Linked DNA regions of Homo sapiens. The protein of the gene in region 7 interacts with the protein of the main gene of each other region in a pairwise test. Each region holds a gene or a part of one and is shown on either strand. Other genes may lie near its edges. The genes, in order: ZNF175, WIPF1, MTSS2, KLHL35, C2orf42, SNRPB2 and ALAS1.

The links.
Region 1: the proteins of ALAS1 (region 7) and ZNF175 interact in binary tests that used the Homo sapiens proteins (3 or more experiments, as listed by UniProt).
Region 2: the proteins of ALAS1 (region 7) and WIPF1 interact in binary tests that used the Homo sapiens proteins (3 or more experiments, as listed by UniProt).
Region 3: the proteins of ALAS1 (region 7) and MTSS2 interact in binary tests that used the Homo sapiens proteins (3 or more experiments, as listed by UniProt).
Region 4: the proteins of ALAS1 (region 7) and KLHL35 interact in binary tests that used the Homo sapiens proteins (3 or more experiments, as listed by UniProt).
Region 5: the proteins of ALAS1 (region 7) and C2orf42 interact in binary tests that used the Homo sapiens proteins (3 or more experiments, as listed by UniProt).
Region 6: the proteins of ALAS1 (region 7) and SNRPB2 interact in binary tests that used the Homo sapiens proteins (3 or more experiments, as listed by UniProt).

What each region holds. Positions count from the first base shown.
Region 1 is NC_000019.10:51,574,283-51,577,782, reverse strand, and holds part of ZNF175 (zinc finger protein 175), read right to left. Parts: intron 1-3,500.
Region 2 is NC_000002.12:174,587,805-174,591,304, forward strand, and holds part of WIPF1 (WAS/WASL-interacting protein family member 1), read right to left. Parts: intron 1-3,500. UniProt on the Homo sapiens protein: Plays a role in the reorganization of the actin cytoskeleton. Contributes with NCK1 and GRB2 in the recruitment and activation of WASL.
Region 3 is NC_000016.10:70,669,054-70,672,553, forward strand, and holds part of MTSS2 (protein MTSS 2), read right to left. Parts: intron 1-3,500. UniProt on the Homo sapiens protein: Involved in plasma membrane dynamics. Potentiated PDGF-mediated formation of membrane ruffles and lamellipodia in fibroblasts, acting via RAC1 activation. May function in actin bundling.
Region 4 is NC_000011.10:75,426,704-75,430,203, reverse strand, and holds part of KLHL35 (kelch-like protein 35), read left to right. Parts: coding exon 1-455; intron 456-1,577; coding exon 1,578-1,762; intron 1,763-3,500.
Region 5 is NC_000002.12:70,149,385-70,153,019, forward strand, and holds the end of C2orf42 (uncharacterized protein C2orf42), read right to left. Parts: intron 3,485-3,635; exon of another isoform or gene 3,305-3,484; intron 1,181-3,304; coding exon 972-1,180; 3' UTR 501-971; downstream 1-500.
Region 6 is NC_000020.11:16,736,526-16,740,025, reverse strand, and holds part of SNRPB2 (U2 small nuclear ribonucleoprotein B''), read right to left. Parts: intron 2,766-3,500; coding exon 2,625-2,765; intron 1,175-2,624; coding exon 1,124-1,174; intron 1-1,123. UniProt on the Homo sapiens protein: Involved in pre-mRNA splicing as component of the spliceosome. Associated with sn-RNP U2, where it contributes to the binding of stem loop IV of U2 snRNA.
Region 7 is NC_000003.12:52,201,160-52,204,659, reverse strand, and holds part of ALAS1 (5-aminolevulinate synthase, non-specific, mitochondrial isoform 1 precursor), read right to left. Parts: intron 2,154-3,500; coding exon 1,926-2,153; intron 798-1,925; coding exon 648-797; intron 1-647.

The DNA.
Region 1 (3,500 bases), on a different chromosome or scaffold from region 7:
CTGAAGCAGGAGAATGGCGTGAACCCGGGAGGCGGAGCTTGCAGTGAGCCAAGATCGTGCCACTGCACTCCAGCCTGGGCGACAGAGTGAGACTCCATCTCAAAAAAAAAAAAAAAAAAGAGAGAGAAAGGAGTATTTTGTAAAAAAATTACTTTTCATGATGTTTTAATTTGTGAATGCTGTGTATTATCTATTCATAAAATTACATTTTAAAATATCTCAAATATCCTTAGGTAAGATAGTTCAATCATTAAACAAAAACATCATGTCATTAAAAGGAGTATTCATATCTAAAAGCTCTTAAAAATTTTTTAAGGCAGTAATGATTATCGGAGGGCTAGAAAATAAAGTTGAGAAATTCTTCCAGAAAGAGGGTCCAAAACCAAAGAAATAGAAAATGACAGAGCATAAAAACCCTTTTAAATGGAGACTAACAGCTTAAAAATAAAGAGTTTCAGGATTTGAGAGCAGAGAGACTATATGTGTGTGGTAAGGAAGTAGTATATGGGGTGTTTTAGGAAGAAAAAAATGATTTCCAACCTATGAACCCAGGCAAAGATCAACTTAGTGTGAGGGTAAATCAAGTCATTTTCCGTGACATCTTTCTATTAAATATGCAAATATATGATCTTTGCTTTTTGGCGTGACATTTTCATATCATTCATTTTCATATCATTTCACTTTCATGTCATGCTCATATATGTAAACCTCTCAGGTCTTTTGTTTTCGTTTTTGTTTTTTGAGACAGGATGTCACTCTGTCACCCAGGATGGAGTGCAGTGGTGCCATCACAGCTCACTGCAGCCTCAACCTCCTGGGTCAAGTGATTCTCCTATTCTTAAGTTTAGTCTCCGTTATCTGAACAGACATGTTCAGATAAGTTCTCACAGGATTTACTGCCGTGTACCGTCCCCAAGAACTCCTAGGGGATGCACTTTCACGAAATGAGAGTAACGGTAAACCGTGGAAGAGAAAGCCAAAGGATTCAAGAAAGGATTCAAGACACAAGGAACTGGACACTTGACAGAGAAAAAAAGAATTCCCAGGTGATGGTGAACACAGCACCATGAGAAGACAGCGTGAGGCGCCAGGAGAACAGCCAGGTCCAATCGCATCAAGACAAAAAAGCAATAGGAAAGGTTTCCTCAAGGAGATGGCATTGACAGCCCCAACCCTCAAGCAAACTGCCTGCCTTCAATCCCAGGCTGGCTGCTTGCTGACTATGTAAACTTGAGCCACTTATTTCATTCTGTGCCTCAGTCTTCTTGTCTGTAAAGGGGGGATAATGGCAGCAGTACCTCGCAAAGTTATGAGGATTAAAACTGTTCCTGAAGGCCGGGTGTGGTGGCTCATGCCTGTAATCCCAGCACTTTGGGAGGCCGAGGCTGGCGGATCACCTGAAGTCAGGAGTTTGAGACCAGCCTGCCCAACATGGTGAAACCCTGTTTCTACTAAAAATATAAAAATTAGCCAGGCGTGGTGGCAAGTGCCTGTAATCCCAGCTACTCAGGAGAGTGAGGCAGGAGAATGGCTTGAACCCAGGAGGAGAGGTTGCAGTGAGCCAAGATCGCGCCATTGCACTCCAGCCTGGGAGACAAGAGCGAAACTCTGTCTCAAAAAAAAAAAAAAACAAAAAAAAAAACTGTCCCTGAAATAGCGAGGGTTTGCAATTACCTAGTAACAAATTCAATTTATGAAGACAGTGTGTACACACTTGGAGAAAATGGTATAATACATTAACATGTATATAGGCAAGTAAATAATCCATAAAATTGTGTGCTCCAGGGAAAAACCGTAAGTTATGCAGGCAGAGAGTTATCAGGGTGTCTATACAGGCAGCTCTGAATATAGTTTACACAGTCATAATCACAAACAAGGAAGATTGACCTGATCAGAATCTGAACCAGTTCTAGAGAAGGATGGGCAAGGAAAGCAGGTGTTGGGGGTGAAAGTATGAGGAAGCGGGTAAAAGCAAACCTTTTAATGACATGTTTCTTAATTAATTAACGTGTTAATTAACAATCCAAGAGGCAGCAATATAAGCATGTCACTAAAAGATTAGGAGGTAAATGCCAAAATAATTAGCTAAAAATGTAAAATGTGATTGCCTGGGAGGAGCTGGAACTTTGGTAAAAATATAGCAAGTGACAGCCCTTTTAAAAGATTACAGGCTTCACAAAACCATCTGATCCTCTTTCCTATGTTCAAACAAAACTAAAACCTACTTTCAAAGGAAAAAGTAACAAAAAGTATTTACAAACATATGCAAAAAGGACCTTAGGTTATTACTGTGTAAGAACTCTCTTGGGACACTGAGGCAGGCGGATCACGAGGTCAGGAGATCAAGACCATCTTGGCTAACATGGTGAAACCTCATCTCTACTAAAAATACAAAAAAATTAGCCAGCAGTGCTGTCAGGCGCCTGTACTCCCAGCTATTCAGGAGGCTAAGGCAGGAGAACGGCGTTAACCCGGGAGGTGCAGCTTGCAGTGAGCAGAGATTGCGCCACTGCACTCCAGCCTGCGCTTCAGAGCGAGACTCCGTCTCAAAAAAAAAAAAAAAAAAAAAAAAACCTCTCTAAAAATCCGGAGGCTAAACCAAACCAAAATATAAATCAAAAGGTAAGAAAAAGTAACTCACTAAAGACAAGTAATTGACCAATAAAATTATGAAAAAAAAGCCTGTTTGTAAACAAAGTAATGCAAATTAAAACACTATACTATCTTTATTTCCATCACATTAGAAAAGATAAAAATAACAAAATAAAAATAGTACTGTCCAGAGCAGAGGGAAATACACACCACAAAGAGAAGATAATGTGCATGGTACTGGGATATACTCTGACATGAATTCAGACACTGATGGAAAATCTGAATTAGCGACAGCAGTATTGATTCAAATGATAAACTGGAAATCAGGTCAAGCAGAAAAAAAATTTCATTGTTAAAAAAGGAAAAAAGCTTATATTGAACATGTGTCCTAAAACGCTAAACTTGAAGATGTTCTGAACACGCAAGTTGACCAACATCAATGCAAATGAGAGAAACGTTTGTGCATCTGCACTGCTGTCACAAAGACTTAGACAATTTCATGTTTTAAACTTGTTTTGTTTTGAGACAGGGTCTCACTCTATTGCCCAGGCTGGAGTGTAGTGTCATGATTGCAGCTCACTGCAACCTTGACCGCCTCAAGCTCAGGTGATCCTCCCACGTCAACGTACTCAGTAGCTGGGACTACAGGTGCATGCCACCACACCTGGCTAATTTTTGTATTTTTGTAGAGTCTCGCCATGTTGCCCAGGCTGGTCTCCAACTCCTGGGCTCAAGTGATCCGCCCGCCTCGGCCTCCCAAAGTGCATGAGCCACTGTGCCCCACCTAAACTTGTATGTTTCAATTTTTCTTTTAAGAACGACTTTTAAATATTTGGGGTATTTACAATTTTGAAAATGATTTATATGTGCAATTTATTTTGTGTTAATGTTCCCTTCTTTTAATACTT
Region 2 (3,500 bases), on a different chromosome or scaffold from region 7:
CTGCCTCACTCACTCACTGCCCTTTTAATGGTCTGATAAACACTTTCAGGCAGGCGAATTAGTGCCACAGCTCACCTGTTAACTAGGCTGGAATCTGTTTTCAGTAAGAGACTGTCTCAGGCAAGGATTCTTTTAAAGTCTGTTTCTTAAATTGCTCTTTCTGGCATGACATCAATTAGTCACCCATAGGGCCACATGGGCATTGTGAGCAGGACTGGGTGCCTGTGTTAGGGGGTCCTCCATCAAGGGGCATCTCCAGCGGCACATTCAGAGGCCTTGGAGTCAGACGTCTCCTAGGACCAGCAGGAACGAAAGGGATCTGATTCAGGCCTGACTACTGCGAAAGATGCTGGAGCCAAATCAATGGTATGATCAGAGTTGGGAAAGGCTTACCAAGGAAGGGGGATAGCCTGGTCTGCCCGGTGGGCCCAAGAGATGGGCTGTGGGAACAGTGCATCCACGTGCTTGGTTGATGAAAAATCCCTCAAGACTATTTTGTCTGACTCCACGTTCACCGATTAACTTTCTGTCATTCTGTGATCCTAATATCTAGGAAAGGGTGGATATTCTGGTCAACTAACAGGAACCTCTTATGGGTATGGTTGTCATGAGTTCGGCTCTCGTAACAGAGATCAAATTGAACTTCTGTCCTGCACAGCTTAGGGGGCAGACTGTGGAATGGGGACCCTTTCAGGGGCTGCCACCCTGAAAGGCCTCCTTAATTATTTTACAATTCTCTGTTGCTGCTGTTTTAGTACTGTCTGTGCACTAACTGACTTGTATATTAACTTCTGGATGACAGCTCCAGGGAGGGCGTGTTAACTTCATGGTCCAGAGGGCTAGTGTGGGAGAAATGGCAACAGTCATGGCTGGGGCCAGAGCCAAGGCCAGATTGCAGAAATTAGCAGGCAAAAACAAGGTTCAGGGAGCAAGATGCTATTAAAGGGTCTGAGGTATTGAAAGAAGTGCTGCCTTTCCTTCCTGGCCACTTCAGATGGACAGTGGGGAGAGGGTCTACGGGTGAGGGCTCTCACTTTTTAGAGGGTGATGCAGAACTAAGTGCTCTTTCCTCTCTTCCTCTGCGAACTTGTTTGCATGGCTTGCTTTCCCTGGCCCCATCTCTCACTCCCCTCCAGATTAACTGTCCCTTTCCAATCTCAATGGTAACACAGATGAGGGAGGCTGCCATGTCCTCTCTCCTCCCTTCTAGCTGAACAACTGCTGGGCACGGTCTGGACTTCTCCAGGCTGGGGCCTCAAGGGAAGTGTGTGAGAAACCCCAGACTCCAATACTGCCACCTCACTCAGCCCCTGGATCAAAGACCAAGCTCGTGTGCCCCAACACTGGGCCCACCGGCCACACCAGGCCCACTTCTTGGCTGTCTTTCCACCAGCCTATGGACTCCATGGGGTCTTGCCAATACCTGGCACAAAGTAGGGTTCTTACTAAATATATATGCAGTGAAAGAACTGTGTATCACACAAACAAGCCGAGTGCTTGCCACTTGAAGGGCTCCCAGCATCACCCCACCGCACTGTGAGATCTGGGCAAAAGAATCAGCCCTATTTCAGAGGGGCTTGCTAGTGTTGCAGACTGGAACTTACTTTCCTGGCAGCCTCCAACTTCCCCAGAGAAGTAGAGCCCCAAGGCCCTGGGAGAGGAGGGCTTCCCTCCTCTCATGGACTTGACAGCCCACATCAGAGCCACAGCCAGATCTTACTGAAGGCCTTGGCCCTAGAGCACGGATCCTAACAGACCAGGCATTCCTGCCTGGATCCTCACACCCAGAGTCTGTGGATAGAATTCAAGGGTTCATGAACTTGTATGAAAAAAAAGTACATATTATTTCTACTAAGCACTAACTGAAATGTAGCATTTCCTTTGATTATGAATGCAGGCCACAAACCATAATATCTGATATTCTTTCACCCATAGTTTTCACGTGATATTTCACATCATATTACAACTACACACCAACAATTTTCAACATGCTGGCAACGTTTAGATCCATTGCTAGATCTTGTTGTTTAAACCATTAATAAAGAAGTACATATTTTAATAAATTAGTTTCCTTTGTAATTCTCTGTATTTTATTTTATGCATTTAAACGTAGACACAAAAGGGTCCCTTTGGGACTGGGAGTGGTGACTTATGCCTATAATCCCAACACTTTGGGTGGTCAAGGTGGGAGGACTGCTTGAGCCCAGGAGTTTAAGACTAGCTTGGGCTACAAAGTGAGCCCTTTATCTCTAAAAATAAAATAAAATAAAATAAAAACAAATTAAAATTAAATTTTTTAAAAAAAGGAGTCCTTTGGGCTTTACCAGTGGGTTTATAGAATGAAAAAGGGAGAACATGAGACCTTGGTCAGGCAAATTTGGTTCTGAATCCTTGCTCTGCCACCTGGCAGATTCAGATGGGAATTTGTTTTTCCCATCTGTTAAATGGGAAGTTGCTGAGCAGATTAAATGAAATGGTGTGTGCAAGGCTTTCAGCATGGCCTGGGGGAGCAAAGCTGTCAGTGGACAGGGCTTAGCTCTGTCCTTCAGAGGGTGAGGATGGGTCCTGCTGGTACAAGCTGCTGAGTGCCTGGCAGAGGAGGGATGGACCTGGAGGCTAGTCTGAGGGGCCACAGCTTTGCTCAGTGGCTGTGGGTGGATCTGCCTGGGTGGGAATGAGGCTGACTGATGACTGGGCCTCCCAGCATTTGGTTCTTCCCTTGGAGATGGGAGCATGGCAGGAAAGGCAGCTGATTCGGGTGCAGGAGAGACGCAAGAAGGGAAGGGACTCAGCAGCAGTTTCCCAGTGTGGTCAGTCATCTCCTGCATCAGAATCTGCTGTGCCTGTGTCCGGCTTCCCAGACTAGTTGGGCTCTCAGTAGTGTCGGATCACATGCCTACCCACTTGCTGGGCCTTGCCCTCCTACCCCACCCCAACCCAAGCAATGAACTTTTAAGAAGTCACACTTTTCAGAATTAATTTCTTTTTAAGAATAATTTCAATGTTAAGTAACTTTCATGATAGAAAAGCCAGACTTTCTAAAATCTTTACTTGGTGTGTTGACTTCTACAAACACAAAGAAAACTCAAGGGACAGAAAAGGCTTTTGTTTTCACATACAGTATTACGGTCTGAACTATGTCCCCTGCAAAAGTGATATGCTGAATTCCTGACCCTCAGGACCTCAGAAGGCAACTGTATTTGGAGATAGGGTCTTTAAAGAGGTGATTAAGCTAAAATGAGGCCATTGGGTGAGATCTTAATCCAATTTGACTGGTGTCCTCATACAAAGAGGAAGAGACATCAGGCATGTGCTCACACAGAGGAAAGTCTTCAAGTGAAGACGCAGTGAGAAGGTGGCAAACCAAGGAAAGAGGCTTCAGAACACACCAAACCTGCCCACATCTTGATCTTGGACTTCCAGCTTCCAGAGCTGGGAGAAAACAAATTTCTGTTATTTGATCTACCCAGGCTGTGGTATTTTATTATGGCAGTCCTAGC
Region 3 (3,500 bases), on a different chromosome or scaffold from region 7:
AAAAGGGCAAAACCAAAAGGCTTTTAGAGGAAAACATCTTTGTGACCTTGCAGTAGGCAAAAATCTCTCAAGCAGGACACAAATAGCACTAACAATTTAAAAATGGATAAACTGGACTATTTTAAAACTAAGAACTTCTGGTCATTAAAAGACCCCCATTAAGACAATAAAAAGGTACCCAATAGAAGGAGAGAAGATATCCGATGAGGAACTTTATCTGCAATACTAAAAAGTTCTATAAATTGGTAAGAAGAAGACAGATAATCCAGTAGAAAAATGGGCAAACGATTTAAAAAGGTCCTTCATGAAAGGGAATATTCTAACGGTCTTTAAAGGTATGAAAAGGTAGCTGGGTTCAATGGCACACATCTGTAGTCTCAGCTATTCAGGAGGCTGAGGTAGGAGGATTGCTTGAGCCCAAGAGTATGAGGCCAGCCTGGGCAACATAGCAAGACCCTATCTCTTATAAAAAAGTATGAAAGCTGGGCATGGTGGCTCATGCCTGTAATCCCAGCACTTTGGGAGGCCAAGGCGGGCGGATTACCTGAGGTCATGAGTTCAAGACCAGCCTGGCCAACATGGTGAAACCCCGTCTCTACTAAAAATACAAAAATTAGCCCAGGTGTGGTGGCACACGCCTGTAATCCCAGCTACTCGGGAGGCTGAGGCAGGAGAATTGCCTGAGCCCGGGAGGCGGAGGTTGCAGTGAGCTGAGATCATGCCACTGCACTCCAGCCTGGGCAACAGAGTGAGACTCTGTCTCATAAAAAAAAAAGTATGAAAAGGTGTTCAATCTCATTAGCATTAGAGAAATGCAAACAAAATATACAGGGAACTACTATTACTCTGCACCCACTAGAATGGCTAAAATGAAATCAATATAAAATGCCAAGCGCTGGTGAGGATGTGGAACAGCAATGAACTGTCATAATCTTGGCCAGGTGTGGTGGCTCATGCCTGTAATCCCAGTACTTTGGGAGGCTGAGGGGGGTGGACTGCCTGAGGTCAGGAGTTTGAGACCTGCCTGGCCAACATGGCAAAACCCCATCTCTACTAAAAATACAAAAATTAGCCAGGTGTGGTGGCATGCGCCTGTAATCCCAGCTACTCGGGAGTCTGAGGCAGGACAATCACTCGAATCCCAAGGATGGAGGTTGCAGTGAGCTGAAATTGCACCACTGCACTCCAGCCTGGGCAACAGAGTGAGACTCTGTCTCAAAAACAAAACAAAACGACACAAAACAAAACACTGTCCTAATCTTGCTAACAGGAGGGTAAATTGGTATGAGCACTTGGCTTACTGTCTGGTAGTACCTATCAAATCTGAAGATGTGCATATCCCATGACTTTGCAATTCTGCTCCTAGGAATGTGCCCCACAGAACTGCATACTAGAATGTTCACAGCAGCACTATTAGCAACATCATAGCCAAAAAACTGGAAACTATGCAAATGTCCATCAAAATGGTTAAATTACATATTCACACAATAGAATGCCATATAGCAATGAGCATGATCTATATTTCCACCTAAAACATGGCTGAATCTCATAAACATAACTGAGCAAAAAGAAGCCAGACATAAAGGATACATACTATATGATTCCATATATACATGTAGAAAGGATAAAAAGGGCAAAACTAGGCCATGCCTGAAATCCCAGTGATTTGGGAAGCTGAAGAGGAAGGATTGCTTGAAGGTAGGAGTTCGAGACCAGCCTAGGAAACATAGTGAGACCCCCATCTCTATAAAAGAAAAAATATAAAAATTAGCCAGGCATGATACTGCACACTCGTAGTCCCAGCTAATTGGGAGGCTGAGGCAGGAAGATTGCTTGAACCCAGGAGTTTGAGACTGCACTGAGCAAGGATTGTGCCACTGCACTCCAGCCTGGGTGACAGAGTGAGACCCTGTCTCAAAAAAAAAAAAAAAAAAAAAAAAAAGTCAAAAGTAGTCAGGATAGCAGTTACCCTTGGGTGTGTAGTGACTTAACAGAGCACTGCTGGCTTCAGGAGTGGTGGTTATCCTGCTTACGTTCTTGTTCTCGGTGTGTTTAGAATACCTCAATAAAAAAGTTCCTTGGGCAGGTGTGGCAGGTCATGCCTGTAATCCCAGCACTTGGGAGGCTGGCACAGGCGGATCACTTGAGATTAGGAGTGATCCAACATGGCAAAACCCCGCCTCTGCTAAAAATACAAAAATTAGCTGGGTGTGGTGGTGTGTGCCTGTAATCCCAGCTACTTAGGAGGCTGAGGCAGGGGAATGGCTTGAACCTGGGAGGCAGAGGTTGCAGTAGCCAAGATCGCACCATTGCACTCCAGCCTGGGCAATGGAGCGAGAGTCTGTGTCAAAAAAAAAAAAAAAGTTCCTGAAAGACTCAATGGTGATGGGTTATAACCCATAGAATAAAAGAAATATTTATGAGTCCATATTGATATAAATTAAAAATTGAATATATAAATAAATGGGGGAGAAGGGACAGATCTTTTTATGGTAGAATCTCAATTAATAAATGTAGGAGAAATGACAGAAATAGAAAGTCACCTATTTTAACAAGCAAGAATCATCAGTGGATGCCAAAATTAGAGAGCAAAAGTACAAGGAGAAACAGGACATTTTCATCCTCTCAAAAGTATCCCCTCACAGGATATTTTATTAATTAAAAAGGGAGAAATAATGACTCTCCAGTGGAGAAACTTGGCACACGCCACCTTAACTAAGGATCAAGGTGAACATCAGCAGTCACACGACGCAGTGACATTGTGCAGCATTTAGGATGCACTGACATGGGGACAACCGCACTTCTGTGGTACTCTTGCCAAAACTGTATGGCTTCTAATTCTGAATGAAAAGGCATCAGACAAAGCCAGATTTAGAGGCATCCTACAAAACATCTGACCGATATTCTTCAAAAGTATCAAAGTCATGAAAAACAAAGAGGGACAGGTGTGAGAAACTGTCACGAGCTGCAGAAACTGAGGTGACACCAACACGAAACACTATGTAGGGTCCTAGCCAGGGGCAGTGGCTCATGCCTGTAATCCCAGCACTTTGGGAGGCCGAAGTGGGCAGATCACCTGAGGTCAGGAATTCGAGACCAGCCTGACCAACACGGTGAAACCCCGTCTCTGCTAAACACAAAAAGTTAGCTGGGCATGGTGGCGCATGCCTGTAATCCCAGCTACTTGGGAGGCTGAGGCAGGAGAATCACTTGAACCTGGGAGGCAGAGGTTGCAGTGAGCCGAGATTGCCCCACTGCACTCCAGCCTGGGTGATAAGAGCAAAATTCAAAAAAAAAAAAAAAAAAAAAGGAAAAGAGAAAAACCCGGGAACATTATGTAGGGTCCTGAATTGGGTCATGGACCCCTGGACCAGCAGGACAGGAGAGAGAAAACTGGCAAAAATAGAAGACTGTACGTTACTTAGTATTATACCAGTGTTAATTTCTTGGTTTTAAAAATGTTTTTGGTGGTTACATAAAGTAAGATGTCAACACTGGGG
Region 4 (3,500 bases), on a different chromosome or scaffold from region 7:
GTGCGCTTTCTCGAGGGCCGCCTGCGCGCCGCCAACAGCCTAGCGCTGCGCCGCGTGGCCGCCGCCTTCTCGCTGGCCCCGCTGGCCGAGCGCTGCGGCCGCGTCCTGCGTCAGGCCTTCGCCGAGGTGGCGCGCCACGCCGACTTCCTGGAGCTGGCGCCTGACGAGGTGGTGGCGCTGCTGGCGGACCCCGCGCTGGGCGTGGCGCGCGAGGAGGCCGTGTTTGAAGCGGCCATGCGCTGGGTGCGCCACGACGCGCCGGCCCGCCGCGGCCAGCTGCGACGCCTGCTGGAGCACGTGCGCCTGCCGCTACTGGCGCCCGCTTACTTCCTGGAGAAGGTGGAGGCGGACGAGCTGCTGCAGGCCTGCGGCGAGTGCCGCCCGCTGCTGCTCGAGGCTCGCGCCTGCTTCATCCTGGGCCGCGAGGCCGGTGCGCTGCGGACCCGGCCGCGGAGGTAGGGCCGCCATCCCCTAGCTTCCCGCCCTCCGTTCTTCCCGCCTGCTTCCACCGCTCATTCATTCTTTCATCATCTTTTAGTACTGCCTCTTGATGATATTCAGTCATTCGTTCAACATTTTAGAGGCTCGGTGCCCATAATTCTGCCCTTGAAGAGTTAACAAGCCAGTGAGGGAGATGCAGAGACCCCACAGCTGCGCACACTCTCTTTGGCCCATGCAACCGTAATTCCGAGTACTTACTACTCTACGCAAGTTCTGTGCAGGGTGCCGGGATGCGGAAGTGATTTGAAAACACTCTTTGCCCTCTGGGAGCTCGCAGTCTAATGAGGGATAGAAATAGGCAGGGGCATGGGGAAGTAGTGAAAGCAGCCTGCCCCACCTTTGGAAAGCCAGACTGGGAGGCTCTGGGCAGAGTAGCCCTTAATCATGCCCCCAGAGACGACACTCTCTCTAACACTAAGCACAGGGCCTGGGACAGAGATCCTCAAATATGTGCCAAAGGAATTAGAAAACCAATGGCTAAAAGGGTATGGAAATTCTGGTGGCGTCAGATGGTGGGGTCAGTGAGAGGGAAGAATGATTTACTGAAAGGGTGAGTTATCCGGCTTAATGGAATTAGGGATGAGGGGATGTCATAGGAGGAGGGAGGCAGCAGAATCAGCGGTTGGAGGTGAGAAAAGGGTGTTGAAGATGAGTTAGCGACAGACAAACCTGGGCTTGAATTCCAGCTCTGACGCTTAATGGCTTTGGGCACGCCATGGTATGTGAGCCTCAGTTTCCTCCCCTGAGAAAGGGGTAATAATCCCTACTAATAGAACTGCCATACAGATTAAACGAGGTGATTTTTCTAGGTGAGGGCAAGGGCTCTGTAAAGATTTTTTTTTCTGTAGTTTAGAGGTCAGCAGAATGCGGTAAGCATTAGCGATTCTCTTCCCAGTACCCACAGGCAAAGTTGGAAGTGGCAGGGTCTAGCGGGATTGAGGCCGGGGGATCGGGTGGGCGGGGGTGATGGCAGAAACGCATGAAAGGGCAGCGGGACCGTGCAGTGTGGTCGAGAGGGTAAGAGAGGGCCGAACTTGGGTGCGGCCCAACAGGCACTGGGCTTATCCGCACGCCAGATTCATGGACCTAGCTGAAGTGATCGTGGTCATCGGCGGTTGCGACCGCAAAGGTCTCCTGAAGCTGCCCTTCGCCGATGCCTACCATCCAGAGAGCCAGCGGTGGACCCCACTGCCCAGCCTGCCCGGCTACACTCGCTCAGAATTCGCCGCCTGTGCTCTCCGCAATGACGTCTACGTCTCCGGTGAGGGCGGAGCCGCAACGGGAGCTCACACGGGATTGACTAGTAGCCTCCGCACTCCACCCCCTTTGCTTTTCCCTCCAATCGGGAGAGAGGGGCGGGATGTTTTCTGATAACCTACAGTTATTGGCTGAAGTGAGCAGGGCTAACTACGCGTGTGACCCGCCCTTTATTCAGGAATGTTAACTTCAATACATATGATTACTTTTTGTTCTGAACCGGCTTCCTAAGGAAGTCAATTCGTATTAGTATTAATAATCACTTCAACTAGCCTACTATGTGCCGAACATTATGCTAAGAAGCTTACATTCGTTATCATTAAATCCCCCTACAATGCTGTTTTACAGATAAGAAAGGCTCGGAGAGGCTCAGAATTTCCCCCATTGTCTCAAAAATGGCAAAGCTAGGAGGAACACACATCTGTTTGATACCAACAAACTGTGTCCTCCCTAAGGCTCAAGCCCTAAAGACTCAGAGAAGCATAAAACACAGTCCTTGCTCCCCTGGAGTGTCCTGGAGAGGAGAGAGACTTCACTTTTACTGCCAGGCAGAATGTGATCAGAATTCTCAGAGTCCCCAGATGATCTGGAATGCCACTCAGGGAATCTAGCCAGGGTTCATAGAAGAGATGACTTTTCAGCTGGACCTTGAAAGTTGGAGGGAACAGTATGGGCAAAGGCACAAGGGCAGGGACATGCAGAAAGGAACCCTGGGGACTCAGGGCTCTGAAGTGCAGGTTGAGTATCACAGGTGAGGCAGGAGTCAGATCAGGGAGGCTTTGAGTCTGGGGCTAGGTGGATTGACCTTAATGTTGTAAAGAACTATGGGTGCCTGCAAAGAGTAAGGAGCAGGAGAATAAGCCAGGGAGGCCTCACAGACCATCCAGGCCACAGATTACCACTGGACAATTTATCCAAGGCCATTGATGGCTCTGAGCAACATGTGGGGCCTTTGTTGGGTGCCACTAGGAATAAACAAAGATGGGGCTACCAAACAGATGTGGCTCTGGTCACAGGCTCAGGCTGAAGGGTGCAGTTAGGGTTGTCCCCAGGGAGGCTCCCATTGAGAGGTGAATCCCTGGCCAAGATCCCCAGGGTGGCCAGACATGGGAAGGGAGAGTCCACATCCTGCATCCCCAGTACCTGGCCCCATAGGGCATGCCATGTCCTCCAGCAGCACCAATGCTGGGCCTGGAGCCAGAAGCTCTGGTTCTGGCTCTGACAAAAGGCCATGTAGTCTTCAGCAGGTCATTGTTGGTCTCTAAGTCTCATCTGAGTTTCTTATATGTAAACTGGGTCTAATATTCCCAACACCTCATGGAGGGATGAGATCAGAAATGAAATTGTGCAGGTGAAGGCAGAAGGGAGGGAGGGTTATTGGGTCACCCTCTACCTATCCTGGCTCCCAGTGCAGCTGGCTCTGCTTTTCCTGGATCCCCAGTACATTCCAGATGCTTGCCTTAGGTACCCTTTGTACTCTTACCTTTAGTACAGCGGCCCCCTCTTTGCTTTCCTGAGCACAGAGCCTGGCACACCACCACCACCACCACAAGGTGCCCGGCGAAAACCAGCCCCTTCTTCCTGAATGTGTCAGGCTTCTCCCCTCGAGGGTCGTAACTCAGACATTCCCACCACTTATTCAAAGCACACTGGGTCACAGGTCCAGAGTCTTACACCAGCTCAAGAAGTCCTCCTGCTGCCTTCCCTTAACCCTTCCTTTGGATCTGGGGGCCCTAGTTTCT
Region 5 (3,635 bases), on a different chromosome or scaffold from region 7:
CGGGTCCCCTTCCACACTGTGGAAGCTTTGTTCTTTCGCTCTTTGCAATAAATCTTGCTACTGCTCTCACTCTTTGGGTCCATGCTGCTTTTATGAGCTGTAACACTCACCGCGAAGATCTGCAGCTTCACTCCTTAGCCCAGCGAGACCACGAGCCCACCGGGAGGAATGAACAACTCCAGACGCGCTGCCTTAAGAGCTGTAACACTCACCGCGAAGGTCTGCAGCTTCACTCCTGAGCCAGCAAGACCACGAACCCACCAGAAGGAAGAAACTCCGAACGCATCTGAACATCAGAAGGGGCAGACACCAGACGCGCCACCTTAACAGCTGTAACACTCACCGCGAGGGTCCGCGGCTTCATTCTTGAAGTCAGTGAGACCAAGAACCCACCAATTCCGGACACACCTGGATCTCTTTTTCCAGTATCACTATCAGTTAAATCCCGCCTCCCCCCCCCGAAATTTATAATTTTATAAACAGGCAACCATGAGATATAATTAGGAAAAACTAGTGACACTGCTTTATTTGAGAACAGAATAAAGAGCGTGGCTGGAACTCTGCCAAGATGGTCTTTAACATTCTGCCCTAACCAGGGTGTTAACTTTCCAACACTGTTGGTGTATGGCTGAGTGCTGCAGATTTCTCAGAGAATTAGCAAAAGGTTGAAATAAACGCTAAAGATGAGTCCGTAAGAAGGAAAATAAGCTGGTTTTCTTTCTGTTCCTTTTAAAACTCTAGCCAGAAATACTGCCCAATGCATAATGAAGACTGTACACAGCAGCATCAAAAAGGCTATTTACAAGAGATTTTCTTCAACAGAATCCACTTGAAAGCACTGAGAATTTGCATCTTAGCTAAGAGCAGTTTACCAAGGAACAGGGCCATCTAAGTGCCTAACTAGCATTTAAAGTTGTCAAGGGGTGGGGATGTGCAAATTAAGCAGCAAAAGATTATTATCTTGTTTTGCTTTAAGGGAAAGTAATAGTGGTCAGAGGGGCCAGTTCCAAGGGCTGGTCCAAGGGGGGCCGCTGGTCTTGGTACTCCGCCACATGCCCATTCCGGTGGTGGCCATACTCAAACTTGATCCGCAGCTCGCCAATCTTAGATTGGGGAAGGATATCTGGGATCCACTCGATGATGAAAGGTGTTGGCTCCTTTTGATCTGGGGAAGTGTTGCCTAAAGAGAAGAAAGGAGTATTAGTACAATTCCACCTAACTCTAATGGGTGTTCCTAATTGCAAAAAAAGTGTCCGGAATTGGAGCAGCCTGTTCAGCTTTGATAATCAGAAGGCCGAATGAGGTTTATAAATTCAGTGGTGATTGGGATATCAGATTTATTGATCATCATGAAGTTTTTGGGTTATTTTGTTTTTTTTGAGACGGAGTCTCGCTTTGGCACCCAGGCTGGAGTGCAGTGGCGCAATCTCAGTTCACTGCAACCTTTGCCTCCCGGGTTCAAGCGATTCTCCTTCCTCAGCCTCCTGAGTAGCTGGGATTACAGGCACGTGCCACCACACCTGGCTAATTTTTTGTATTTTTAGTAGAGATGGGGTTTCATCGTGTTAGCCAGGATGGCTCAATCTCTTGACCTTGTGATCCGCCCACCTCAGACTCCCAAGTGCTGGGATTACAGGCGTGAGCCACCACGCCCAGCCATCATGAAGTTAAAACATATATATTTAGGCCAGGCATGGTAGTTCATGCCTGTAATCCCAACAGTGTTGGTGGGCAAGGCGAGAGGATAGCTTGAGGCCAGGAGTTTAAGACCAGCCTATGCAACAAAGTGAGACCCTGTCTCTACAAAAAATTAAATTAGCCAGGTGTGGTGAAATGTGCCCATAGTCCCAACTACTTGGGAGACTGAGGTGGGAGGACTGCTTGAACCCAGTAGTTCAATGCCAGCCTGGGCAATACAGTGAGACTTTGTCTCAAAAAAACAAAGTAATACAAGAAAACAAGAAGGATAGGCCAGGGACAGTGGCTTACACCTGTAATTCCAGCACTGTGGGAGGCTGAGGTGGGCGGATCACTTGAGGTCAGGAGTTTGAGACCAGCCTGACCAACACGGCAAAACCGTCTCTACTAAAAATACAAAGATTATCCAGGTGTGGTAGCATGCTCCTGTAATCCCAGTTACTCGGGAGGCTAAGGCAGAAGAATCGCCTGAACCCAGGAGGTGGAGGCTTCAGTGAGCCAAGATCGCACCACTTCACTCCACCCTGGGCAACAGAGTGAGACTCCGCCTCAAAAAACACCCCCAAAAAATAAAAAAACAAGAAGGATGGATTAATTAATGTATATACATTTTTATATTATAAAAATTAACAATGTATATACATTTTTCTCTCAGCACTACTAAATCTTTGACTTCATAAGCTAATATTTTACTTTTTTGTTTGTTTGTTTGTTTTTTGAGATGGAGTATTGCTCTGTTGCCCAGGCTGGAGTGCAGTGTTGCAATCTCGGTTCACTGCAACCTCCACCTCCTGGGTTCAGGTGATTCTCCAGCCTTCCAAGTAGCTGGGACTACAGGCACGCACCACCATGTCCAGCTAATTTTTGTATTTTTAGTAGAGACAGGGTTTCAGCAGGTTGGCCAGGCTGGTCTCGAACTCCTGACCTCTGATGATCCTCCCACCTCAGCCTCCCAGAGTGTGGGGATTACAGGCGTGAGCCACTGCGCCTGGCTTATATTTTACTTTTAACTTCACTATGTTACTCTCCCTCCACTTTAGCCTAAATAGTCACCCCTTTTAAATTCCTTCCCTCTACTTCTTTTGGTCCTTTCTCACAAAGACTAAGACATCACTGATATGATGAGAAACAAAGCATCCATCCACCCACCCCAGACTAACAACTTCATTGGCAGGGTATTTTGGTCTGTTTGGTTTCTTTTAGTCATAGAATATAAATGTTAGGTATTATCTAGTTCATGTTTGTCACAGACATTCTAGCTTCCATTTCAAATGATATCTGGAGCTGCTGCCAACTTTTCACTTAAATATCAATGAAGACATAGAAAAAGATAAAAACTTACAACTGATGAACACTAAGACTACTGGCAGCTTCTGGGAGGAAATATAAAACAGGTGGAGATGGATGGAAAGAAACCTACCCAGACTTTGGCCATAGCATATCCCATCTTTCCTTCATAAAGGGAGGCTACATGGAAAAAGGCAGGAAAATACTTTGTCTCTCTCACTGTTTGTGCCCTGGCTAGTACTTGTACAGAGCAGCAAATGAGCAGCGCCACTTCGTTTCCTTTAGAACATCTCACACACACCCCTCCCCACTCATGTACCTGAATTCTTGATGACTGCAAAGGGGACTTGGAGGAGAGTAGGTGCATTTAAGGTGAATAGCAGGGCCAGGTGCAGTCGCTCACGTCTGTAAACCCAGCACTTTGGGAGGCCAAGCCGGGCAGATCATGAGGTCAGGAGTTCGAGACCAGCCTGATCAAGATGGTGAAACTCCGTCTCTACTAAAAATACAAAAATTAGCCAGGCGTGGTGGCACGCCCCTGTAATCCCAGCTACTCAGAAGGCTGAGATAAAAGAATTGCTTGAACCTGGGAGGCAGGGGTTGCAGTGAGCCAAGATCGCACCACTGCACTCCAGCCTAGGCAACAGAGC
Region 6 (3,500 bases), on a different chromosome or scaffold from region 7:
AATTAGAGATGGCCAGCAATGTCACCCCTCCGTAGCTGGTTACCACACTCAGTATCACTCAGATACTCAATTCCTCTGTACTGTTACTACTTCCCAGCATACTAAAAAAAAAAAAAAAAATTGGAACTAGAAAGATTACCACCGAGAACCACTGCTTAGGGACTTTTAATTTACTTATTTTTGGCAAATAAATGAGATATACACAGCATCTAGTTACATACAAACAAGCAGTAACAAACACTTAGTTTATTAGATATTACTCATTTGATATCCCACCCAGAGGTTATGGGGAACTAAAGAAAGGGTCTTCTATATAAGAAAAGAGCTCTGTCTTCCTGCTACTGTCATAAAAGAGAAAAGAGCAAGTATAAAAAATAATTAGTGAACAACTCAAGGCTTAGAGGATTAAGTGCTGGCATTTGTGAACTGGACTATAAATGCTGAGGAGATAAAAAACCCAAGTAACTTAAAACAAGAGGAGAAAAACCTCAGTGGTACAGAGAATTCTATGGATTTAAGGATCTTGCCAGACCCCGCCATCTGGAAAAAAAAAAGTATGAAACCATCAGCACATTACTGAGGCCTTCTCTTTGAGGTATGTCATGGGGAGATTTAATACGGAGTTTCTAAAACATTTGTACAAGGAGGCTTAAAAAAAAAAGGCTGGAATTTATTTGTGTTCAGGAAGTGAGAGCAAAGGTTAACTATAAAACTATGTGCCCAAAGAGTGTAACACTGTAGTGTTTCAACCAACTGGAATGGAAGAGAGCCCCTGACCCTGCCAGTTACCCTTACCCATGCAACTGTGTAAAGCTTTAGGTACTGTAGAGGAAACCAAAATGTTTGCTCCCAGCCCTTAGAGTTTAAAGTCTGTCATTTTGATTCTGTCATTGATTCATTATGGAAAACAAGAAATAAAGTCAGGTGTCGTTTTCTCTCTCTAAAAAAGAATTAAAATGTTCTTCAGGAGTTGAGTTCTTACATTGCAGTGGCAGACAATTTAACGCACTGTGTCTTGTAGATGAAATCATTTTGTTTTTGGAGACATGGAAATTGTTTTATACCACTGCTGTAATTTTTACAATCTTATTTTAAGGTAAGCACGACATGGAAAAAAAATTACCTGAGGATTTGGTGTTGAATTTCCTTGGGTATTAGCTGAATTTGGAGTTCCCTAAGCAAAATAAATAGGGAGAGTTTAAATATCCAATCCCTCCAAAAACGCAGCAGGTATTTATATTTATAATTACTGCATTAAAAATAACATTAATTCCAAGAGATATCCTTCTTACTCCATTTAATTTTACTTTAAGAATTTATATCTTAACACTGACTCAAACACTCATGTTCTTAATTTGTCGGTTATTTTTGTTAAGACCAGCCCTAAACTTTAAATAGTATATTATAAAATTTAACCTCTTAGCTTTAAAATTATGGAGAAATATATAAGAGAAAACCAAGGCCTAGTCTTACTTTTAAAAACAACTGGACATAAGTCATTTAATAAAACTGACTTTTAATCACTTTCAATCCAGAAGTAATTACTTTTTGGTGAATTTCACTTTTTTTTTTTTTTTTTTTTGAGATGGAGTCTTGCTCTTGTCACCCAGGCTGGAGTGCAATGGCATAATCTTGCCTCAATGCAACCTCTGCCTCCCAGGTTCAACCAATTCTCCTGCTTCAAGCCTCCTGAGTAGCTGGGATTACAGGCATCCACCACCACGGCCAGGTAATTTTTTGTATTTTTAGTAGAGACGGGGTATCACCATGTTGGCCAGGCTGGTCTTGAACTCCTGACCTCAGGTGATCCACCCACCTCAGCCTCCCAAAGTGCTGGGATTATAGGCATGAGCCACCATGGCGCCAAGCAGTTCATTTCACTTTTATCTGGTATTTCAAATTATATTTTGCATTACTGAATTGTTCAAAGAAAGACACTGTTTTTTTTGTTTGTTTTTTGGGTTTTTTTTTTTCTTTTTTTTTTTTTGAGACAGAGTCTCACTCTGTTGCCCAGGCTGGAGTTCAGTGGCACAATCTCGGCTCACTGCAAGCTCCACCTCCCAGGTTCATGCTATTCTCCTGCCTCAGCCCCCAGAGTAGCTGGGACTACAGGCACCCACCACCAAGCCCAGCTAAATTTTTTTTGTATTTTTAGTAGAGACGGGGTTTCACCGTGTTAGCCAGGATGGTCTCGATCTCCTGACTTCGTGATCCTCCTGCCTCGGCCTCCCAAAGTGCTGGAATTACAGGCAAGAGCCACTGCGCCCAGCCAGAAAGATACTTTGAGTGAAGTACTCATGATTAAAGATAATAACTACAGTATTATTTATAGGCAGCAAAACTTGAGAAATAAACCAAAAGGTATTAACATATTTTAAACAATGATCGAATTAAATGCCATGCAAATATAAAACTGCTTAATATAAATCTCCATGTTAAGGTTTATATTTTGTTTCTTAATACTGAATTTTATAAGTCAACCATTCTAGCTTCTTAAAACCACCTTTTAAACACACATTTATGCACATATACAGACAAGCCTAAGATCATTCCTTACCTGTAAGACAAGCATCTATCAAGTTTTTAACACCAATACAAACAGGAACTTTCTTGGTCTTTCTTACCTGGCCAGGCTTTTTGTTTGTGGTTGTTGCAGTCTGTTCCACAGTTTTGGCTTTTTTCTTTTCTTTTTTCTTTTCTTTGTCAGCAAAAGTTCCACGCATTTTTGATATTATATCCGAATCTGTTTTTGCATACTGTATTCGCTGTTTTAATTATTTGAAAACAGGTTACTTCTCATGCTGAAGGATGTTTACACTAGTCATTAATATTTCAAATTTCATTACGCAAATACACTACAAGCTAATTTTAAACATATCCCTAAGAAAATCTGTCAGAATATACTGAGTGCCAAATGGAAGTAAACTGTGGGCTATAATTCATAATTTAGACAAAGTTAGATTCAAGTGTGTTTATTAGATTAAAAAAACATATATTTTCATGTGAGAAACACAGGACTTTGAAATATCTGTACCACGGCTTCTCTCCATTTAATCAAAGAATAGAGAAAACTGCATTGAAGTGTTAAAGGAACAAATGAGTGGGCTCCACCAGCGGGCTTTGGAATCCTGAACTGTTCAAATCTCCTCAGTGCCTGAGGATCTGGCTCAAGATCAGCTATTCTAATCCAGAGGTATTCAACAAACAACATATAAAACAAACAAAAGCAAAACTGCTCAGCTTGACATAGAACTGTGGCTCCAGAGCCCACTGGAGGCCAAATGCCCTTTCCTCTCCAAACCTACCCTCACCCCACAGTCACAGAGGGAGCACCTAGGGATGCAATTTGAGGGAGCTGGTGAAAAATAAAGAAAATCGCCATTCTAGACTAATCCTGTTTTACAGATAGAATAGGCCCACAGAACACTAGGGCTGGTTTGGCAGAGTCCCCACAGAACAACTTTTCTGGCAGAAAACTAGATGGAAAATTTCTTTTAAAC
Region 7 (3,500 bases):
GGTTGTGAAACACAGCTGCATTTTGGTGAAATACAACAAGTCTCAGCTTGGCAACTGAGGGAGATCCTGGGCAGGTTATTTGATGTCCTCATCTTGTAAGTAAATAAGACTGTATGTCGTGTTTGGCTCAGTGCCATGTGTAGACGGTAAGTATTAAAGGACAGAAGGCAGGCTACCAACAGCACCTGTAGTCACCACAACCAAAAGCACCTGCTCACGCAAGCAAGGGATATGGCTTTCAAGCCTCAACTCACCATACATTTTTTTGTTTTTCCTAGAAACTGAGTCTCTGTCTGTCATTCAGGCTGGAGTGCAATAGCGTGATCATAGCTCACTGAACCTTGAAGTCTTGGGCTTAAGCAATCTTCCTACCTTAGCCTCCTGAGTAGCTGGGACTATAGATGCAAGCCATCATGCCTGGCTAATTAAAAAAACTGTTTTGGTAGAGATAGTGTCTTGCTATGTTGCCAAGGCTGGCCTCAAACTCCTGGCCTCAAGTGATCTTCTCCCGCTTCAGCCTCCCAAAGTGCTGGGATTACAGGTATGAGCTACTGTGCCCAGCCTCACCATGCAATTTTATATTTAATCTAATGTACATTTGAATTATAAATTCTTTTCTACATCAGGCAAATAACAATGAGACTTACATTTTGGCAAGTTATCTTGAAGAAGATGAGACACTCTTTCTGGTCTTTGCTTTTGCATGATGTCCTGGAAGTTCTTCAGCAGTCCACTGGGATCCCCTCCATCGGTTTTCACACTAACCACACTGGGGCCTGCTGAGGTTTCAGCAACCTCTGGAACAAAAGTAACAAGAAACAAATGGGACCAACTTTCTATTCTGAGTTCACAATATCTTCCAAACATATTGTCAAAAATGGCTTATGGCCTAGTTCACAAAAAAGGCCAAGCATAACCAAAGTTAGTTATAACTGAGTGTACAAAGCATCTCTTCTATTTTAGTTACTGTAATGGCAGACTCTTGGTGTTGTTTTCAGAGCTACTGGCCAGCTTTAATGAACAATAAAGTCCAAAGCTTTCTTGCTGGTTGGCATGTCTTATTCACTCCACTACATCCCCACCCCAATCCTAATCTCAATTTTCTGTTTTTTTTTTTTTGAGACAGAGTCCCATTCTGTCACCCAGGCTGGAGAGCAGTGGCACGATCTCGACTCATTGCAACCTCTGCCTCCTGGGTTCAAGCGATCCTCCCTCCTCAACCTCCTGAGAAGATGGGACTATAGGCATGCGCCATCATGCCCAGCTAATCTTTGTATTTTTGGTAGGGATGGGGTTTCCCCATGTTGGCCTGGCTGGTCTTAAACTCCTGGCCTCAAGTGATCCACCTGCCTCGGCCTCCCAAAGTGCTGGGATTATAGGTGTGAGCCACTGGGCCTGGTCCTAATCTCAATTTTCTTCATAGAAAACAATTTTGGCCATATGCATAATTTCTGCTGGTTAGGCTTTTGGGGAGCCTTGAGTTCTCTGCAGATATAGCCACACCTATATATTGTGGAGTTAAGGTTGCAATTCAATGACCATCAGTAAGACACACGGCTTGGGAGCCCTAGGACCAGCACTTACTGCAGTAAAACCATTATTTTCTATCTTTATCCTAGCAGATGATGGGAAAGACCAAAGGGACAAAAGGCAGCTGGTGGCAGCTCAAGACTGCAGGTTATTTTCAGAAATTAAGTAGTAACTATAAAAGCTGGTCACATCCCACACACGCACCAGAAAGAAAGTCCCACTTTCGCAATACAGTCCCTTGACTGTCTATCTTGAAGACCTTCCTCTCTGGCCCTAAAAGAGGAAGGTGTTTCCATAAATACTGCCCTAATAATAGCTCATACACAAATCTGAGGGCCCAAAAGAACTAAAAGGACCCCTTCACTACCACTAATGGTTCACAACTCATCTCTTACCTTTCCTCACGGCATTCATTTCCTGCACATCCTCCTGAAGCTCAAGACTGGCTTTGCAGAAGACACTGCTGCCTCTCTGATTCATCTGTGCTGCCAGGAAAGGGCATTTGCTTGCAGTGCCCTGGCTTGTGGCAGGCAAGGGGTGTCCAGACGGAAGCTGTGTGCCATCTGGACTCTGCTGGGATCCATCAGGAGTCTGTTGGACCTTGGCCTTAGCAGTTTTGTCTTCTGAGGGAGGAAATGGAAAAAGTGAAGCATCAGATCTGGTTGCACAGTATGTAAGAAAACCACTTATTTCTTTCTTTTATTGCCTCAAAGATAAACTTAATACTTACTGTACCCCACCATCCAGACACAAGTGTTTTTTTTGTTTTGTTTTGTTTTTAAGATGGAGTCTTGCTCTGTACCCCAGGTTGGAGTACAGTGGCACAATCTTGGCTCACTACAACCTCCACCTCCTGGGTTCAAGTGATTCTCATGCCTCAGCCTCCCAAGTAGCTGGGGTTACAGGTGTGTGCCACCATGCCTGGCTAATTTGTGTATTTTTAGTAGAGATGGGGTTTCACCATGTTGTCCAGGCTGGTCTTGAACTCCTGACCTCAGGTTATCCACCTGCCTTGGCCTCCCAAAGTGCTGGGATTATAGGCGTGAACCACTGCACTCAGCCACAAGCTTATTTTTATTAGGTTCTGCTAATCTCTCTAGTTTTTCATCTGCTTCACAGGAAACAATGCGTCTATGAAGAGTTAACTGGCACATTCCAGTTGCCTCTTAAACCCACAGTATTTCTCGTCATAAATCCAAAAAAAGTACCATTTTCTAGTTTTAGACAACCCGGAATCCTTGAGTTGGATCATTTCCAGTAATTTCTACCCCAACTACACTCAGCTTATTTTATGAGAGGACACACTCTGTAAGGTAACGGGAAATATTCACACACATTTTTTTCTCTGCTAACATTTTCCTTTCCTTTTTTTTTGAAACAGGATCTCACTCTGTCAACCAGGCTAGAGTGCATGGTGCAATCATAGCTAACTGCAGCTTTGACCTCCAGGCTCAAGTGATCCTCTCACCTTAGCTCTCCAAGTAGCTTGGACTGCAGGTGTTCTACTGCGCCCAGCTAATTCTTTTTATTTTTTATTTTTTGTAGAGACGGAGTCTTGTTATGTGGCCCTAGCTTCTATCAAACTCCTAGGCTCAAGCAGTCCTCCCGCCTCAGCCTCCCAAAGTGCTGGAATTACAGGCATGAGCCACCACATCCTGTCTCTGCTGACATTTTCTAAACAGATTCTTGACAAAGAGGCTTGCTGTTGCTTAACATAAAAGCTATTGGTTTTCATCTAAACAACAGAAATTAGACTAAGACTTAGGTCTTTAGATTGCTAATAAAGTAAGAAAAAATAGGGGTATATCACATTCACATACCTCATCTACTTTCTCATCTAAATTCATCAAAGTCTGCTGACTAAACACCGTTGGCTGGTAATTATCCTTCTAGCTACAGTGACTTCCCTCTCCCCTTGAGCAAATTCATTCACCTTCTTTCTAGAAAAGTCTTTCTTCATCATTCTGGAA